2 separate regions of the Homo sapiens genome follow, and region 1 is linked to region 2. A link means that fine-mapping ties the variant in region 2 to the plasma level of a protein whose gene starts in the linked region. Region 2 holds a variant in brackets. A gene starts in the other region. All regions are shown on their forward strands.

The links. PIP is the posterior inclusion probability: the model's chance that the variant is causal. The UK Biobank Pharma Proteomics Project read protein levels with antibody pairs (Olink). The fine-mapping took linkage between variants from a reference panel, not from the people measured, so its PIPs are less certain.
Region 1: it holds the start of FCRL1, and the variant in region 2 is fine-mapped to the plasma level of the FCRL1 protein (UK Biobank, PIP 0.97).

What each region holds. Positions count from the first base shown.
Region 1 is chr1:157,818,864-157,821,363 of GRCh38, forward strand. FCRL1 (Fc receptor like 1) reads right to left here and starts at 1,257. Exons shown (of 11, transcript NM_052938.5): 1 at 1,144-1,257. The coding sequence starts at 1,174.
Region 2 is chr10:96,618,593-96,621,616 of GRCh38, forward strand. It overlaps PIK3AP1 (phosphoinositide-3-kinase adaptor protein 1), which reads right to left. Exons shown (of 17, transcript NM_152309.3): 12 at 1,760-1,965. It also overlaps the pseudogene RNA5SP324 and the pseudogene RPS2P36. Among named protein-coding and RNA genes, the nearest start is that of TM9SF3, 33 kb to the left of the region's middle. The variant T/C (reference allele first, on the strand shown) is at 1,788.

The DNA.
Region 1 (2,500 bases), not on the chromosome of region 2:
GTTTGTATACTTATGGGAATAATTTAGAATGAAGAAACATATTGATGATGGAGCAAACTTTTTGAGAAAGTAAGAGGGTCATGGGCCTAATGCACAAGTGGAGAGTCTTGTCATCAACAAGATGAGGGGCAATATATTCGTGGTAGGGGAAGAGAAGGCAGTGTATGTGAATGCAGAGGTGAGTAGGTCAACAGCAACAGAAAGATGAGAGAGTTTTCTTCTGACTGCTTTTATTTTCTCAATGAAATATGAAGCAAGATTACACAATGAGAGTGAACAGAGAAGTATGAGGTGACAGGATAAGGTATGCAATAGTGATAATGGAGCAACATGGACTGTGAACATGTAGGATAATTGCCTGGCATTGCTGTTGGCTACCTGAGATTTGGGGGTCCTACACTTAAAAGGGGATAAGTCATCAGGGTTGTGCATTTAAAAAAAAATCCCATTCAGCTGTTTATGTCCAGGAGTGAAGCATGCAGAAGGGCGTGTAAACCAGGAGAGTGCTATGGGGGAAGAGAGATGAAGGTGTGCTCGAGGGAGTGTTGTGGTGGTGAGCTGCAGAATCTGAGCTGAGCACCATGAGAAGTGAGCACATGAAGTGTAGTTACTGATAATGGAAAAGTAGCCCTGGGGTAATTGAAGTCATGTTGGAAATAGAGTGCAGGAGAAAGTGAGCTAGAAACACAACTTAGTGGGGGTGGGGGATGTATGCTGAAAACAAAGGAGTGATGATAAGTTCTAAGGTTTGACTGTGGGAATGGGGAGTCAGAGAGGGATAAAAGGAAATAACGTTGGTAGTAAGAAGGGCAAGGAATTCAGAGGCCTATTTATTATACAGATTTTTCTTTTGGCAGCTGTTGAAAACACTGAGAACAAAGACAATTATTGATGGAAAGGAAGACAGACAGTGAACACTTCCTATGAGATAAAAACTGAAATGATAGTTTTCTTGAAAACTCTGGCTTTTTGAAATATCTACAACTTTTTGCCTGACTCTGAGCCCTCCGTGGAAGTGGAGATCTGAGCACCCCTGAGCATTACCTGACAGAACCTTAGTCCTAAGAAGTCCTTACAGCCCTTCAGGAAGCAGAGCCCAAGCATGATTGCATCCCATGCCCTGCTCTGAGTTGCCCAACTCACCACAGATCAACAGCAACAGCCTCGGCAGCATGAGGACCAGGTCAGGGATGGTACCTAGAGATGCCTCTCATCAAAAAAAGAATGCACCTCAGAGTCGAGCAGCAGCAGCTCATCAGAGGTTTGAGGAAGTTGATATCGGAAGTTACCCTTCAGCAGAAGTAGAAGGAAGAAGAACCCTCTAGTGACCAGTCTCCATTTCCTTTTCTATGAAGTCTGAGAAAATTAAAGATGCTCCTTTTTAAATATAGTTTGATTCAGTTCCACAAGCTGCAGATAGTACACATCAATATTTGAGGGACTTTTTCAAGAATTCAGGTATTTCAAAGGAAGTTTTCTAAAGGCAGTTTCCTACTTTGATGAGTCTCATCAGGTTATGGTCCTGCTGAAATTCATCTTTGATACATCTACAATACTTTTCACCTTTGATAGGGATGTCTCCTGGATTGTTTCTAATTGGCACATTCTTCTTGCTCAGCAATATAGTCCCACTATGCAAACTTTCTCTAGTATAGTCATATTATGCAAACATGTCATTAAATCAGGGACTGATGGGGCTGTCACCCCGGTTATGTGTAGTGTCTGACCCTTGCTGCATATGATGACTTATGTACAGGGTCAACCTATTCATACAGATATACGCTTTGATATTCAAACTTTCAGTGTACCAGTAAATGAGCATGAAATCACTGAAAAATAAAATCACGGCAAATTACAATCTGGGGGATATTTGAAAATGAAATACAGAAAAGAAGTATATGCAAATTAGCTTCAGGGCACTTGAGAAGGGTTCACCATTAGTACTAACTCTGGCATTTGTAAAATTGCCCCTCTTTTCCCTCAAAATCAGGGCACCTATAATCTCTCCCATTGCTACCTTTAGCACATTAGGGATACCAGTTCTAGGCAAGTGAAGCCTAGATTAGGGATTGGAGGAGAATAAGCTATCTTAATTTTCAACATTTCTTAAATCCGTGAGTGTCTAGGATTAAGAATAACTAGAATGTGTGGAAAGTAACCTATTAGGGGAAAGATGCTGTCAGGCAATGATGTCTAAGTCCAGGTATCCAGCTCAATGAGTATGACTGAGAAAAGAAACTATTCAGTGATACGCAAAACCAGAGGGAAAAGGGAGCAATGTTGGTAACCAGGCTAACAGCGAAAGTGCTGAAAACGAATAGGTATTCCATAGCTTTATTTATTGGCTTAGGAAAGCCTGTGTGGGGATAAGCTTGTTTAGTGTAAAGTTTCAGGACCAATGCAAAAAAATCTCCTGAATGAGAATGTAGAGCCCTTTAAATCCAGGGTGTAAAGCTGTTTTTGCATACACTCTGCTGTTTCATCTCTCTCTTTTTCTTTT
Region 2 (3,024 bases):
AAAAAAAAAAAAGAAAAAAAGAAAGAGAGCTAACATTTATTATGTATTTACTACGTACCAGTTATGCTGCTTACAGTAGCTTATATCACCTAGTCCTCCCCTTTCATATGAGGCACAGCAAGGTCAAGGTCATCAAATAGCAGAATAAAGATGTAAATTCAGGCTGCCAGCTCTAGAGCCCTGGCTGTTCTTAACTACTGTGCCACGTGGTTGCACAACTTGGCAAGGAGCAAAAAAACATTGTTTAGCCAGGGCCAGCCTTTTCTCAGCAGGACTGCAGCCTCCCAGGGGCTCCTGAGTGAAAAGCACCCGTGATTCCTGCATTCAGCTCTCCAGAGTGCCCTCCCACCCTTCAGGCCCCAAAAGGGAGGGAGGCAGCTGGCAGAGCAGGTGCCCCTGTCTTAAGGAGCACTAAAAAGGCAGAAGGCATAGTGAAGGGAGCACAGGCTCTGGGGTGAGAAAGGGGAGGTTTGAACCTTGACTGCCTCTTCGCCTCTCTGAGCCTCAGTTTTCTGTAGAACAGGAGGAGTAATACTTATTTCATATGCGTGTATGAGGAGTGAAAGAGATCAGGTCTATTTAACGCTGAGCACAATGCCTAACATAGCACTGTCGGAGGTCAGCAAATGCGGCCTGATGACATGCTTCCCCACTCTTCACCACTAATCCTGTCCCAGAAGACAGGCTCCTATCTCAGCCCTGGACGGGTGCTGCTTACTCCCCGCCTTGACAGCTGGTATGTCAGATAGCGTAAGAACAGAGATTAGAATACACACCACCAGGGTCTATAGCCATAACACCCTGAACGCGCCCAATCCCATCTGATCTCTGAGGGTAAGCAGGGTCGGGCCTGGCTAGTACTTTGAAGGAAGCAGCCTGGGGAGGTGGAGAGAGAAAGCAATAGTTCCAGTCCTGACTCGGCCCCTCACTAGGAAAGATGCCTTGGACGTGTCCCTTAACCTCCTGAGCCCCATTTCCTCCTTTTTAATACAAAGGCATTGGTGGACTAAGAATGAGCTTCCTAAGGTTAAGTTTGAGTTCTTTTTTTGTTTTTAATTATACATCATGTACACTTATGATACAGGTATGGAGTTATATATTCTCATAAAAGCTTCAAACTATACAGGTAGAGCAAGAGTCTCCTCTGACACCCCAGTCCTCCAATCCCAGTCTTCTCCTGAGAGGTGGCCCCTGGAATGGGCCCGAAGTGGCCGTTTCCAGATCTTTGTCCTTGCATTTATATACATGTCCATAGAAATACAGAGTTTGTGTGTGGACGTGTCTGAGTTGTTTTAATTTGGGTGGTTTTGTATCTGCAACTTGTTTTGTTCATTTAATCATATTTCTTGGGAGTTTTCCAAGTTCTCTTTGAGTCATAAAGTGTGATAGTTATGAGGGTATTTGGCAGTAGGAATAGAGAGAGAGAGACTCTGAAAAGAAAAAAGCTGGAAAGCAGAAGCAGGGAGCCAAATGCAGAGAGACACAGCAGCAGAGTTAGTGTTTGTAGTTGAGTCTTTGTTCCTGATCTCAAGCCTCATGGTACCTGGAAAAGCTACCCAGCTCTCAGCCAGGGAGCCATGTGGTTACAGACCGAGGTGACACTCATACACACTCACTGGTTCACAATGAAACTCAAACATTCGCAGGCACAGCCACAGGTGTCCAGGTACAGCAATACACAAGACAGCCATGGCCCAGCCCTCCTCTACTGTCAAGTGGGGAAATAGACATGAAACAAATTCCATACGAAGCTAGTTACCTGCTGGAAACGAAAGGACTCCGATCGT[T/C]TCTTCTGGTTGAGCTGCCACTCTTTGAAGTGGAGCACAGCCTCATCCACGTTGACAATGCCCAGCTTCACCTGCTCCTGGAGGGTGATAAGCTGCCGCTGGCCTGGCGTTTTCATTCCCGCAAAAGGGTCATATATACTCGACTGGGGCCTGTCCCTCCATGGTCTGACGGGCGGCCCTGGAAAGGATGGCAAAACTCAGCTTGACAGCTCCCCCACTGGGGACCACTCACCAGAAGTGTACGGTTAATGAGGCTGGTCACAGGCTCAAGAGGACTCTTCTCAAAAGAACAATTACATGTGGCCAAGAAGGGGGAGATACAACATAAAATCAGGGGAGAAGAATGCAGCTAATAATTCCAAGGCCTATCACACTGAAGTAGACAAGGCTGCAACATTTAAGGGAGGCGTGAAATCTGCTGACTCTCCCAAGTCTTAACTATTATTATTATTTTTAACAGGCTTCATTCATTTCATTTTTCTGGTAAGAAAACCGTACGTTGTAGCCACAGCTGGAACCTGCGTCTTCTGCTTAGAGACTCTGGTGTGGGTCTTGAGAGATGGTCAGTGAATTCCTGGTAGGGAAACTTGGTGAATACAGTCTCTTTCCAGAGGTCAGGGATCCAGTTGCTAGCAGTCTTAGAGATGGCATCAAAGGTGGCCCAGGGTGGCAGTGCGGTCCCTGGCCAAGGCGTAGCAGCCATCAGCAGCAGCTTCTTGGGCACAGAGGCCAAGATGATGCTTAGTGCCCCTGGGGGCAGGGATGAGGCACACACACCAGCACAGAGCCAGTGGCCTGTCACGTTGCAAAGGCTGGTGTGGGGCTTGCTGATCTTGTTCCCCCTGTAGCCTCTCTGTGCGGGTCCAATGGAGAGCTTGGCTGGGATGATGGCCCGTTGGATGGTAGTGGCTACCCCCTTGGAGTGCTTAATACCCAGACAACATGGCCATTGTAGTCCTCAAAGGCAACAAACACCTTGAACCTGGTGAAATGGCCAGCATGGGTCAACTTCTGTGCCAGCATAATCTTCAGAACCCCATTCTTGAGAGACGACTCCAGGAAAAGGTCAATGATCTCAGACACCTTGATGGGCAGAGAGAAGACAGCTCTCCCAGGACTTGATCTTCACATCTTTGGCCAGATGGTTTAACTTAGTGATAGGCGTCGACTCCTTGTTCTCAGACTTACCTCTATGAGCTCCAGAGCCTTGGCCCCAGCCACAGCCACAACCTTGGCC